Homo sapiens: one gene and its partners. The protein of the gene in region 1 interacts with the protein of each later gene in a biochemical or structural test. Each region holds a gene or a part of one and is shown in the gene's direction. Other genes may lie near its edges.

Region 1 (3,656 bases):
ACAAAAGGAGGAGAATGAATGCCTCAGTCAGATTGTTTGAAAAAATAGGCTGGGCGTGATGGCTTATGCCTGTAATCCCAGCACTTTGGGACGCTGAGGTAGGCAGATCACCTGAGGTCAGGAGTTCGAGACCAGCCTGGAGAACATGGTGAAGCCCCATCTCTACTAAAAGTACAAAAAACTAGCCGGGGGTGGTGGCGGGTGCCTGTAATCCCAGCTACTCTGGAGCCTGAGGCAGGAGAATTGCTTGAACCTGGGAGGCGGAGGTTGCAGTGAGCTGAGATTGCGCCACTACACGCCAGCCTGGACAACAGAGCGAGACTGTCTCAAAAAAAAAAAAAGGAAAAGAAAAATGTTAGAGGGCTGGTCAAATAGATATTTTAGTTCAGTAAATTGGGGTATGGAGAGGTAATATAATTAGATTTGTGTTTTTAGATACTTTTGAAGTATTATAAATATATAAACATACCAAATGTCAAAATGTTTTAAATCAGCTGGTCACGGTGGCTCGTGGCTATAATCCCAGCACTTTGGGAGGACAGGACAAAGTGAGCATATTGCTTGAGTCCAAGAGTTTGTGACCAGCCTGGGCAACATAGTGAGACCTTGTCTACAAAAAAATAATAATAATTAACCGAGTGTGGTGGCACAGGCCTGTAGTCCCAGCTACTCAGGCTGAGGTGGGCAGAGTTGCCTGAGCCCAGGAGGTCGTGGCTGCAATGAGACTTGATCTTGCCACCCTACACTCTAACTTGGGGAACAATGAGACCCTGTCTCAAAAAAAAAAAAAAATATCGAGGAAGAAGTTCAAGAAAAAAAAGAATTTTTCTGAGAAATTCAAGAAAACATTTGCTGTAAATATTTAACAGAGAATATTATGTACATTACATACATTATGTATGTACATATGGTTTAGCTCAGTTGAATAGTTTCCAGCCATTAACCATGACAGTAATAATCTAGACTAGGCTGGGTGCAGTGGTTCACGCCTGTTATCTCAACACTTTGGGAGGCTGGGGAAGGCGGGAAGGATCACTTGAGTCCAGGAGTTTAAGAACAGCGTAGTCAACATAAACCCCATCTCTACAAAAAGTTAAAAAAAATAGCCAGGTGCAGTGGTGCATGCTTGTAGTCTCAGCTACTCAGGAAGCTGAGGTGGGAGGATCACTTGAACCTGGGAGGTCAAGGCTACAGTGAGCCATGATGCACCACTGCACTCCAGCCGTGTGACAGAGCAAGACCCCTGTGTCTTTAAAAAACAAAAATCTAGAATGGTAGAAATGATAACCGAAAAAAGCAAGTTCCAAAATTACATGCATTACATGCCAATTGTAGCTTTGCAAAGTGTACTGATGATGATCTGAACATGAAGCAAAAGATGGTAAAGAGCTGTTAGGGTGGCAGGCTTCCGCCTTTCCCTTTAAATAAATTGTTTGACTTTACCTTTACCCAAAAATCTTGGGGAGATTTTTTCCCCCCTAGGCAACAGACTGATTTTTATTATTAAAGAATATTCAAAATGATAAATGGCTGTCACAGACTTTCCTAATATTAGAGAAGCAGTGAGATGTGGTTTTAGCGTGAGCTGAATTTTCTTGATTAATATCTGAATTGTGTAAAGTCCTACGAAATATTTTTGGAGATCGTTATTTTCTGCATCTGTAAAATGAAGGAGTTGGACTAGATGGTGGAAGGTTTCTGCGGTGACTCCAAATACTATGAAAAGAGCTAACCTGTGCTAAAAACCCAGGATGAATCCCAGTGCTCAGAGGAATGAATGTGCTACCTTTAAGAGTATGCAAGCAGCCTGGGCAACCTAGTGAGACCCCATCTCTTCAGAAAACAATTTTAGCCAGACATGGTGACATGTGCTGTAGTCCTAGCCACTCTGGAGGCTGAGGTGGGAGGATTGCTTGAGCCTAGGAATTTCAGGCTGCGGTGAGCTACTCCACTGCATTTGAGCCTGGGCGACAGAGTGAGATCCTATCTGGGGGGAAAAAAACTTACTCATGGAGGTTAATGGGCTGAATTGTAGCCCCCAAAATTCATTTGTCTAAGTCCTAACCCACAGCACCTCAGAATGTGACTGTATTTGGACAGGTAATTAAGGTAAAGTGGGGTCACATGGTTGGACCCTAATCCAGTGTAAGTGGTATCCTTATTAGAGATTAGGACACAGATGGGGAGAAGATAAGACAGATGGAGAAGATGAGCATCCATAAATCAAGGAGAGAGGCCATCAGAAGAAACCAACTGTGCTGACACCTTGATCTTGGACTTCTGCCTCTGGAACAGTGAGGAAGTAAATTTCTGTTGTTTAAGCCACCTATTCTCTGATGCTTTGTTGTGGCAGCCTTAGCAAAAGAATACCGGGGGAAAGGATGTTTCTTTCAGTAAATGGTGCTGAAGCAAATGGATCAGAATGTATCATAGAACTAAATGTAAGAGCTAAAGCTACAAAACTTCTAGAATAAATCAGAAAATCTTTGTCAGGTTAGTTAAAGATTCTTAGATATAACAAAAGCACAGTCCATAAAAAATTGAAAAATCGGACTTTATCAAAATTAAGATTATGTTTTTTCAAAAGATGACACCAGAAAAAAAGTACTTGTATTCAGATATTTAAAAAAAAAAAACTTTTACAGCTCAATAACAAGACAGATAATTGTAAAATGGGCAAAATATTTGAATAGATATTTTACCCAAGAAGATGATACATGAGTGGTCAGTGAGCACATGAAAAGATGCTTGATATCAATTGTAATCAGGGAAATGCAAATTAAAGTAACTGAGTTACTACTTCACATCTATTAGAATGGCTGTAATCAGTAAGGTTGATAATACCAAGTGTTGGTTAATACCGGAGATTAAACTCTTCATGCATTGCTGGTGGGAATATAACATGGTCTAGCTACTTTGAAAAACAGTTTGACTGTTTCTCAAAAAGTTAAACGTTACCAGGTGATCCAACAATTATATTCTTAGGAATCTTCCTAAAAGAAATGAAAGCATATGTCCACAGAAAAACTTCCATGTATATGATTATAGCAACATTATTCATAGTAGCCAAAAACCTCAGTAACATAATTGCCAGTTCATCTTAACTGTGAATAGAGAAACAAAAAATGGTATAGCCATACAGTGAAGGACTGTGCAACTATGAAAAGGAACAAACCACTGATCTATGCCAGAACATGGGTGAGCCTCAAAAATATTCTAAGTGATATTTAGCCAAAAGACTACATTTTGTATTCCATTTATATGACATTTCTAGAAAAGACAAACTCAAGACAGTAAATCAGTGGTTGCCAGGAGCTGGAGTGGGAGTGGAGAGTGACTGCAGGAGGGATCTTTTTGGGATAATGGAAAGGTTCTAAAACTGGATTGTGGTGATTGTTGCATAACTATAAATTTGTGAAAAATTACTGAACCGTAAAGTAATTTATGGGGTTTTAATAGCCCATTGATTTATGTTTGGTATAAAGTTGGTGGTAGAGGGAGTTTGATTTTAGTTGAGATGAGGTGGGCAAACACCCCATGGGCATTTAAAAATTCTGTAGAGCTGTGGTTTTGGTTCACTATGATATGAGGATGTGTGCTGTTTTTTCAACAAAATTGTAACTGCATTTTTTTCTATAGAAAGTTTCTTGAATTTT
Region 2 (3,500 bases), on another chromosome or scaffold:
CTGGTTTTCACGAATCAGTGAAATTTAAATTTCAAGAAATGTATCCTTTCTTGAAATTTAAGTGTCAATTTAAGCTAGAATTGAACCTTGTTTTATTAGTAACCAACCATCCCAGTTGAACCCAGAAGTGTATTTCTCAAACTTTAATTTGTGATAAGATTTGATGAAGGGTGAACACGCGCAGAGCTCCTTCGAGGTCTTGTTCTTGTGGAGGTCCCGTGGGTGCTGCTGTAACTGGTGAAGCAGGGCTCGCTTTTTGTTAATAGAAACTGGATCTTCCTTTTGTAGCTGGAAGCTCAGCTTGATGATGCTGTTGCTGAGGCCTCCAAGGAGCGCAAGCTTCGTGAGCACAGCGAGAACTTCTGCAAGCAAATGGAAAGCGAGCTGGAGGCCCTCAAGGTAGTGCTGGGCGGGGGTCTCTGCCCTTAACTGAGAGGGATGCTTATCTTTGCTGACGCCACCACATGGAAGTCACCTTGTGTAATGTGTGGTCCGGGCCGAGTGTCACCCGAGGCTGTTCAGACAAGACCCACATGTGGAGAGGTGGGGGGTGTGACCCCTGCCTTCGTGACTGCTTTCATTTTTAAAGGCCAAGTTCATGTTTTTCCTTTGTTATATAAAAGTTTCAGGCAATTCACAGTAAGTCCTAGGAAACGAATATCTAATTGGCTCATTTCCTACTCCAGCCCCATCAATTCATAGCCTTCTTCACATCGTGGTATTCTAAATTCGGTGCAGTTGAGTTTTGGAAAAGCTCCTTAAAGCCCGTAGCCTGCTGCTGACTGGGGAAGAGACAGGCTGGCCATCAGTCGGGGCCCACTGGTGGGGCTGGAGGGTAGCAGGGAGGCCGCGGAGGGCGGGAGTGGGGAAGGCCACAGTGGCCAAGTGGGCAAGGGGCCGGAGGCGGATCTCCTTGGCAGTATGGCGTGGCCTGGATCTCCTCATGTGTGAGCCGCGTGCGATGGGTCTGCCCTCTCCCTTCGCCTCAGTGATCTGGCAACTCTTCCTCTGGGACGTGGGCCTGAGATGCTGTTCCTCCCTGGCAGCGGGCTTGGCTGGACCTCGGCATGTGGTGCCCGAGGCTCCTGCCCCTTTCTCAGCCCTTGAGTCTCCTCTCTGCACAGCAGGCAGAGTGAGCTTGGCAGACCAAAGCCGGATCACATTCCTGTGCGGCAGGGCCTCCGTGGCTCCGCAGCTGTCCAGCAGCTACCCTCCTGCCTGCTCCAGCCCAGCAGTGCCTCTCCTGCCCCTCCTTGCCCCGCCACACCAGACACACTGGCCTCTCTGCATGCTGCAAACACTGCCAACACGTCCCACCTCACTCCAGCCTGTGCCCTTGTTCTTTGCCCCTAGCCTGACACCTCACTTAATAGGCCAGCACCTTACAGAAGCCGCCCCAGCCATCCTGGCACGCCCTCCACTCCCTACAACCTGGCTGGGGTGCACGGCCCCTCTGCCCCTTTACTGGTTTGCTGTCAGTTCCCGCCAGCCCCAAGAGAGCAGAGACCTCAGTGTCACCCCAGTCACAAGGAGGGGGCCCAGCACAGAGTCAGCCCTCAGAAGAATGCTGCAAGCATGAATGAACAGGGTGTGGGGCAGAGCTTCGGGGGTCCCAGGCAGACCTGGGCACATCCCCCTGCAAGGCCGTCTCCTGCTGTGACCCCCTAGAACCTGGATCACGTTAGCCAGGTCAGCTACGTCATCTGGTGTAGACCAGGCACACACAGTCCTTGGGAAGGTGTCTGCACTTGCTTGGGATGAAAGGGGTTGAAAGGACAGTGTGACCCTTGAGGACACAGAGGTTTGTCAATTTATGTTAACCTTTGTCTTCAGGTGAAGCAAGGAGGCCGGGGAGCGGGTGCCACCTTAGAGCACCAGCAAGAGATTTCCAAAATCAAATCCGAGCTGGAGAAGAAAGTCTTATTTTATGAAGAGGAATTGGTCAGACGTGAGGCCTCCCATGTGCTAGAAGTGAAAAATGTGAAGAAGGAGGTGCATGATTCAGAAAGCCACCAGCTGGCCCTGCAGAAAGAAATCTTGATGTTAAAAGATAAGTTAGAAAAGTCAAAGCGAGAACGGTAGGTTTTCATGAGCTTCTCAGTTCAGAAGATGCAAGCTGATACCCACGCCATAGATACGAATATCAGTGAAGTTACGAGCTTTTAAAACTGTTTCTCGCTCACCTTGGCAGGCATAACGAGATGGAGGAGGCAGTAGGTACAATAAAAGATAAATACGAACGAGAAAGAGCGATGCTGTTTGATGAAAACAAGAAGCTAACTGCTGAAAATGAAAAGGTAATTAATTCAAAGTACCTGAGTTAGCACTTTGTGTGGAAGTTGTAATTTAAAAAAAAATTATTTTTAATTTGTGTGGGTACATAGTAGGTATATATATTTATGGGGGAGTAGAATGTCGTCATTCTTGAGTCTTGGAAGTTTGGTTTTTTTTTTTTGAGATGGAGTCTCGCTCTGTCGCTCAGGCTGGAGTGCAGTGACGCGATCTTGGCTCACTGCAACCTCTGCCTCCCAGGTTCATGCCATTCTCCCACCTCAGCCTCCCAAGTGGCTGGGACTACAGGCGTCTGCCACCACGCCTGGCTAAGTTTTTGTATTTTTAGTAGAGACGGGTTTTCACCGTGTTAGCCAGGATGGTCTCAATCTCCTGACCTCATGATCCACCCACCTCAGCCTCCCAAAGTGCTGGGATTACAGGCATGAGCCACTGCGCCGGCCGAAGTTTGGTGTCTTTTTACAGTGCAGTAATGTGCCATATAACGATGCTTCCATCAATGATAGACTGTGTGTACAACAGGCGTCCCGTACGATCATAATACTGTACTTTACTCTACCTCTTCTGTGTTGAGATACACAGATACTTAGCATTGTGCTACAGCCGCCGGCAGCGTCCCGCACAGCAACATGGTATGCAGGCTTGGGGCCTGGAATTGACAGGCTGTACCACAGGGCCTGGTGTGCGGCAGCCGCACCGTCTAGGCTTGCGTGAGTGCATTCACGCTGTGTGTGCAAGGACACGTTTCTCAGACCGTGTTCTTGCTGTTTCACTACACGTGACTGTTTTAATTTTTGAATGGAGTCATGTGTTTGGTCTTTTAAATAGGATGTTTGTATTCAGCGAAAAGATGCCAATTGCCTGAAGTCACTAGCTCCAGCTCCATCAGTTTAGGTTTAGATTTGAATTGAAATGTGACTTAAGCTAGATACAGTGAAAAAAATCCATATCATGAACTTAGTTTGGAAAAATCTCATGACGATTAAAGAAAACTTTCAGAGTCTTCAAAAGAACTTCCAGTGTTAAATCCAGCATACTTAAAGGATGCCCGATTAACAAGTTCTGTGGTGAAATTGTTTCATTTCAGCTCTGTTCCTTTGTGGATAAACTCACAGCTCAAAATAGACAGCTGGAGGATGAGCTGCAGGATCTGGCAGCCAAGAAGGAGTCAGTGGCCCACTGGGAAGCTCAGATTGCGGAAATCATTC
Region 3 (3,500 bases), on another chromosome or scaffold:
AAATGGCACTTACCAAAAATCCGAAAAAAAGACCTACTGCTGAAAAATTATTACAGGTATTATTTTTGCCCTGAAATATATATATATATTTCAAAAGATAAAATGTTATTCAATCAGATTTATAGTAAGTGTTCTGCATTGTATTTAATTTTTATAGCATCCTTTTGTAACACAACATTTGACACGGTCTTTGGCAATCGAGCTGTTGGATAAAGTAAATAATCCAGATCATTCCACTTACCATGATTTCGATGATGATGATCCTGAGGTAGGAATTGCTTTTACCAGCGGGCATATATAACATGTATATGTGTATGTATATATGTGTGTCTGTATGTACGTCTCAAAATCCATTTTTTTAATTTTGGGGCCTAGTTTAAATAAAAAAGCTCTTGAGGGAACAATTAATTCTTTGTCTTTGCCTTTCATGGAAAGTCAAATGCTAGGTTTTTCTTACTGACTACTTATAGGTGACTATAGTGTGAAAATGGCAAAGGCATATCATTTAATCCACTTGTTGAAATCACTGTAGTTATTTCAAAATAGCCATTTTTGGTGAAGTTGCCAAATAATCATTCACTGTAAAAGGGAAAGCAAATGGGAAGTGCCTAAACAAGACATTTGAATATTCAAAATTTCCCCTCAGTTTGCTTCTCAAAAAGAATCCTCAGTTTGGCCTGGTGGCTCATGTCTGTAATCCCATCACTTTGGGAGGCTGAAGCAAGAGGATTACTTGAGGCCAGGAGTTTGAAACCTGCCTGGTCAACATAGCAAGACCCCGTTTCTATCTTTAAAAAAAAATTCTTATATAATACTTCATAAATTATTAGAGGTTAGTAGGAAGTATAGGCTTGACTTTGCCAGTGACTAAAACTCAGCTATTCACTATGGAAATGTTTTAAAATGAGCCAGTATAGTTGTTAATAAAATAATTCTAATATGACAGAAGCATTGATATTAATGGAAGCTTCACTTCTGTTTGCATATGTAACATTCCTAGCACTGCTAATAGTTGTGGCAACCAAGATAAATTCAGTATATGTGACATGGCAGAATTCTGTTATTGGGTCTGTAACAGAAGTGGATAGGCTTTAACTCTACTGGCTTTATGGGAGGCCCTTAAAAATATTGTAAATTTCATTAATGACTGAAGGTGAAGTGTTTAGAAAGACGGCCACAGATTGTCTTAAGTCAGAGAGAACCTTTCTATCAATTCAGCATTGTCCCAGCTTGCCATCTTATGATAGATAAGCTATTTGTCCTTTTGTTTAAGGGTCTGGAAAAGAGTTTGGAGCTTAAAAATGTAAGGAATGTAAAGTATAATTAATCTTATAATTATACTCTGAAGAAGTTTTTTTTGTTTTGTTTTTGTTTTTTTTTGAGATGAGTCTTACTCTATTACCCAGGCTGGAGTGCAATGGCATGCTCTCAGCTCACTGCAGCCTCTGCCTCCTGGGTTCAAACGATTCTCCTGCCTCAGCCTCCTGAGTAGCTGGGATTACAGGAGCCCACCACCATGCCCAGCTAATTTTTGTATTTTTAGTAGAGATGGGGTTTTACCACATTGGCCAGGTTGGTCTCGAACTCCTGACCTTGTGATCTGCCTGCCTCGGCCTCCCAAATGCTGGGATTACAGGCATGAGCCACCGCACCTGGCCTGAAGAAGTTTTTTGGTGTTGATTTGCTTAATTTTATTTTTAAGAAAGTTAAGTTTTACAAACTCTTCTAGTCTTATTTAGTATACAGGCAGTCCTTGATGTGCATGGTAGTATGGGACTGTAAAAATGACTGCATAAGCTAAAATTCTGCAAAGTAATCTTAATAATCAGGAAAAATTATAATTGTTTCATGACTTTTAAAATTTTTTGTTAAAGCATAAACTCTGTTACTGTCAGTTGTAATTGTAGAAATGTGAAAAAATAGTAAAACTATTATTTACAGTGTATTATAAATATTAGAATCATCGAGAGTTAATGTGTTTCATTTCTTTGTTAATGAACTTTTCATGCACTTTTTTTACTTATCTAGTAGTCTGCTTATTGAGTAGTTTGCCTTTTCATCATGTGTCTGTGACACAGAGCAAGTATCTTTTCTATGCCTTGGCAAATTGTCATATTGCTTTCTAATTTTCTTTCTAATCATGATCATGATGTGCATCTGTTATTTACGTAGTAATTTGTGAACTGAAAGGCTACCAATAAAGTTTATACTTTATGCAATTTCAATTAATATACAGTGGTAACTGTTATTTGAACCATGATGTAGGGAACTAGTGTTATTTAACTAAATTATGGTAACTGAAATTGGTGCATAACAAAGCTGTAAAACAAGGACTGCCTATATCCTTTTCAGTGCACTAAATGCTACATGATTGTTTCTTACCTCACCCTATGTACTTGTCATGTCTTTTTAAAAATGTACTCAAAGAACAGAAATAATAAACCAAATAGAGAAGCAATCTGTGGAATGAAGATTCTTCTAAAACTTTCTCATATAGCAGGGAAAGAAACTCATCTTTCTTATCCAGACATTGTTTTGGTATTATAATTATAAATTGTTACAAATCTCTATGGTAAGTAGGTAAAATAAAGGAATTTAATTATTCCAGGGGTAGGATGAGGGGAAGCTGTTACATTCCCTCTCACAGTAGCTTAGAATAATGTTTTTCTTAAGAGAAATTCATAACTTTTTTATTTGCAAATGATTTGTAATTGTAATTGCTAAGTGCAGTGTTGTCACTCAAAATACGAATGTATCTAAGAATTTCAGCACTTACTGTGATACTAGAACTATTGTATGCATACTCTTAAAAATAAGGGTGGGCTCAGTGGCTTATGCCTGTAATCCCAGCACTCTGGAAGACCGAGGCAGGTGGATCACCTGAGGTCAGGAGTTTGGGACCAGCTTGGCTAACATGGTGAAACCCCGTCTCTACTAAAAATACAAAAATTAGCCGGGCATGGTGGCTCATGCGTGTAATCCCAGCTATTCAGGGGGCTGTGGCAAGAGAATTGCTTGAACCTGGGAGGCAGAGGTTATAGTGAGCCAAGATCATGCGACTGCACTCCAGCCTGGGCAACAGAGCGAGACTCCATCTCAAAAAAAAAAAACAAAAAATAGAAAAAGAAAAATATATATATATGTGTATTTATCTATATATACATATATACACACACACACACACACACACACATATACCACATCTAAGTCTAGTTTAAGTTTTTTATAGGTTATGCACTGTGGAAGAAAGTTTGACTTTTTAATGTTGAGTTCCCCTGTAGTTTCTATTTTAGAAGTAATTACACACTGGTGTAATTCTAATTCTGATTTTTATTCAGTTTTCGTCTCCTATATGTAAGCCCACTTACTATGTACAGCATTATAAGATTTAACAATTTTATTAATCTGTTATGCTAATAAATTAATAATTTATTGTGCTGTTTAAGCCGGGAAGGTAAAACTGTTCTCAGAAATAATCATGAGTTTCATCCATGTTCATT
Region 4 (3,500 bases), on another chromosome or scaffold:
CCACATGTTTTTATTACATTTTACAAAGTGTGCTCATACTAGGAGGCCAAATAGAGAAAAGGCCAAGAAAAGTAGATGATTGATGTGAACATCTGATCTTATTTGACCAAAGTTGACAAAATATTGATGCCACTGTTTGGTGTTTAAAAGTAAGATTAACTAAAATGCCCCAATTTAAATTTCTAAAATTTAAATCCTCTTCTTGAATTGTTTGTTTGTTGAGATCTCACATTATCAGATCTTTAGTAATTCTGGAAGAATTTGCTAAAGGGTGAAAAGAATATTTTTGTTAAATATTTGGTTAAGTAGGTGGTTTGATTTTTAATCACTATAACTAAAGGGGTTGGGACTTCCAGATTCCCAAAGGATCCTTTTAAACCAAAGTAAAACTGATTTAATAGTTTTACTATTTCACATTTTTGTGAAAAATTCACACTTACAAATTTTCTTTCTACTTGAAATAAATCCAAGGTGGTAACTGGTATCTGTCTATCAAATAAGTTAATAAAAATGTGGGAAACAGAGACACATGTTTATGACAGAAATTAAGATACAACCTTGATATTTGTTGCTGAATTTCAGTGTGTTACCCTCTCATGTAACTGAAGTTTCTTTTTAAGTAAAGGCTCACTTTTTTCTTTTTGTGAAACAGAGTTTTCATAGTAGACCTATCTTTGTGGTCAACAGGTATCTGAGGTTGATAAATGTAGAGGCTACATTTTATGATGCCAAACCACAATGACATACCATAGAACATGATAAAAATTTTTTGACAAAACTGCTTCTAGTAAAAATAAATCATGTAGAAGCACAGATGGTTGATGGTAAAATATGTAATAGCTTTCAGAACAATGCATAGATGGTGACTATATAGGAAAACAAAGGAATTTAGAGAAAAAATATATATATATACCAGGAAATGCACTCATAGGACACTTTGGAATAAAAGTGGTAGTGTTTGAGAATGATGAATGATTTGCCTATCATTTCAAATGTGCATTATTAATCTAAAAGTCATTTTAGGCATTTGGCATACAGACAGATTTTCTTCACATTTACACCAATTGGGGTTACATCTCTAATAATATGTTGTATTTTATAGTGTAAGGTAGTCTTAATGGTAAAGCTTCAGAAGAGAGCTAGCATATTTTCTTGGCATGTGACAATAATCTGCACTGTCCCCAGGGCTCCGTGGATTAGCCCATCTCCTGAATACTACACTGAATACTCCAGGCTTTAGACTGCAAGTCATTTCTTTTTCTTTGCTGCTGCTCGTAGAAAATTGGAACCTTGTGAGGCTGAGGAAATCTGTTTGACTTTTGTGTTCCATAACATGGATAAATCAGGTCCTTGGAATGATCAGCCTCTGATAGATTGTCCCAGAAGACTACAAATTAAATAAAGACTAAAGAAGTAATTGGCTGTAGAGTGGAGTGTGGATTTATTCCTAGGTCTGAATAAGGCATTGTGTGGCATCCAGAGAGAGGCAGGACAGAGGAAGCAGTGAGAGAGAAGCAATTCTAGAAAATGTGGATACCTTGCTGCTCAGTGTGGCTTATAGACAGTAGCACATGCATCCCCCGGAGCTTTGTAGAGATGCTAAAGCTCAGCTCCCACCCCAGAGCTACTGAGTCAGAATATGTGGTTTGTGTGCACGTTAAAGTTAGCGATGCTGGCTACCATCCTTGGTTCCTGGTGGCATCTTTTAGGAAGAGTTGCTACCTGGGATGGATTCTGCATTGTCCCCTTCCAGTGGCCTTAAAGATCTATAGTGTTACTTGGAATACCGAGTATTTCCCAGGTGTCCACTATTGTGATCTGACTTTAGGAAGACATAAATTGGATGAAGGAGAGATAGCAAGCAGGTAGATCAACTATAAGCCCAGTCTTCTCATGAATATTTTTCGTAGTAGTTATATAGTTTATATTGGCATCACTGGTCCCATTAAAAAGTAAGATAGCTTTTCTTCAATTAAAGGCAAGAGAATTAGCTCTTTTAATAGCTCTGTTAGTTATTATTTTATCCCCTCATAACACAGTTTAAATTCTGTAAATGACTTTAGTGACCTTGCAGCTTCTTTAAGACAAAGGGACTCTTGCAGGCAAGGGATTGAGTTTTGGGCAGGTGATGGAGAGTGACCCTCTAAACTGGGAACTGTGACGACATTCAGCTTCATGTCTTAGGAGAGAGTGAGATAGGAGCCACTAGAAGAATGAGATGATTCAGACAAGAGATTGTAGGAGATTGGCTTTATTCTGTTGACAAGATGGTAATCCGACTTATTTTTTGGTTTTTTGGTGTTGGTGGTTTAGGAAGACAGGAACTTCTCCACACCCGGTAGAGTTCAGCTGCCTTTTCATTAGTCAGCAAGCAGTTTTTCCTTTCTCAAGGCAGTCCACATCCAGCAAAACATTTGATTAACTGGAAAGCAATACCATTCTCATGCCAGTGTACAAATTACATGAAAGAGCATCATTTTTCTAGTGTCTGAGGATTGGCTGCTTATGGCCAATTTTGGCAGCAAGACGATAGGATTAAAAATAGCTTGAAGATGATCTAGTCTTAAATAATATATTTCATGATGAACTTTCCTTGGGAAAGTGCATCTTTCTGCCTACAAGAATCACATGACCCCTTTCAATAATTTATGTAGTAGAGAAAAACACACTATTTCTCATAGAGTTTTCAGTCATGTGCTGTGGTGTGATTGTTTCTGGACATTCATAAAATTTTATAGTTAACTGAATTCTCTTTTCTGTTTTGTTGCTATTTAACGTCCATTGAAAACATGGCTTTCTTTTGCGCATTCTGTTACTTTCAGCTGTACTTTCTAATAAGAATGGATTGCCCTTTTTAGCAATCTTTGATTGAACTGGTACATTTCAGATTACTTAAATGTCATCAGGCCACACAGCATACCAGGTAACAGAAAGCCATAAATTAAAAATAAAAAAAAGGCAAGCAAAATTCTTGTTGTTTTTTCTTATCTCTGTTCCCAGTCCTATTGCGCTATTTGGAGGGATGATACGCCCACTCATGAGCGAGTGTGTGGGTGCTGCATGTTAACAGTGGTTCTTCCCACCCAACATACCTCCGCACCCTTTTCTAAGGTCACTCATTGTGTCTTAGCAGTAGTTTAGCAAAGCAGTATCTCAGCAGAAGTGCATTTGTGCTAGAAAACAACACTGTCTTTGTAGTGTACAAGTAGAACGTTTTCTTTTTCCCCCAGAGATATATTGTATTTGAGATTCAAAGGTTCTGTTCAACCTTTTTAAGGTAATCTAATATCACCTTATTCAGGTATAACAGTAACTTGTCAATCTGGTCATCCTTTCTGTCAACCACATGTAGGAGACCACTCAGTGAATTTACTCCACTGTGAATTTTCTCTTTCATCCCTCTTGGTTTGGCTTAATCAACCTTAATGTTTGATGTCTAAGCAGGATTAATGATGAAAATCATCCAAGGACTGACAGTTATTCCACAGATGTGATTGCCA

Evidence for each region.
Region 2: of the proteins of PPP2CA (region 1) and CDC42BPB, one has a biochemical effect on the other in vitro, tested with the Homo sapiens proteins (one study listed by BioGRID).
Region 3: the proteins of PPP2CA (region 1) and MAP4K3 form a complex in vitro, tested with the Homo sapiens proteins (one study listed by BioGRID).
Region 4: of the proteins of PPP2CA (region 1) and BCL2, one has a biochemical effect on the other in vitro, tested with the Homo sapiens proteins (2 studies listed by BioGRID, with this or other methods).

Annotation. Positions count from the first base shown.
Region 1 is NC_000005.10:134,202,074-134,205,729, reverse strand, and holds part of PPP2CA (serine/threonine-protein phosphatase 2A catalytic subunit alpha isoform), read left to right. Parts: intron 1-3,656. UniProt on the Homo sapiens protein: Catalytic subunit of protein phosphatase 2A (PP2A), a serine/threonine phosphatase involved in the regulation of a wide variety of enzymes, signal transduction pathways, and cellular events.
Region 2 is NC_000014.9:102,967,050-102,970,549, reverse strand, and holds part of CDC42BPB (serine/threonine-protein kinase MRCK beta), read left to right. Parts: intron 1-288; coding exon 289-399; intron 400-1,833; coding exon 1,834-2,078; intron 2,079-2,191; coding exon 2,192-2,297; intron 2,298-3,379; coding exon 3,380-3,500. UniProt on the Homo sapiens protein: Serine/threonine-protein kinase which is an important downstream effector of CDC42 and plays a role in the regulation of cytoskeleton reorganization and cell migration. Regulates actin cytoskeletal reorganization via phosphorylation of PPP1R12C and MYL9/MLC2.
Region 3 is NC_000002.12:39,322,286-39,325,785, reverse strand, and holds part of MAP4K3 (mitogen-activated protein kinase kinase kinase kinase 3), read left to right. Parts: coding exon 1-56; intron 57-157; coding exon 158-268; intron 269-3,500. UniProt on the Homo sapiens protein: Serine/threonine kinase that plays a role in the response to environmental stress. Appears to act upstream of the JUN N-terminal pathway.
Region 4 is NC_000018.10:63,313,270-63,316,769, reverse strand, and holds part of BCL2 (apoptosis regulator Bcl-2), read left to right. Parts: intron 1-3,500. UniProt on the Homo sapiens protein: Suppresses apoptosis in a variety of cell systems including factor-dependent lymphohematopoietic and neural cells. Regulates cell death by controlling the mitochondrial membrane permeability. Appears to function in a feedback loop system with caspases.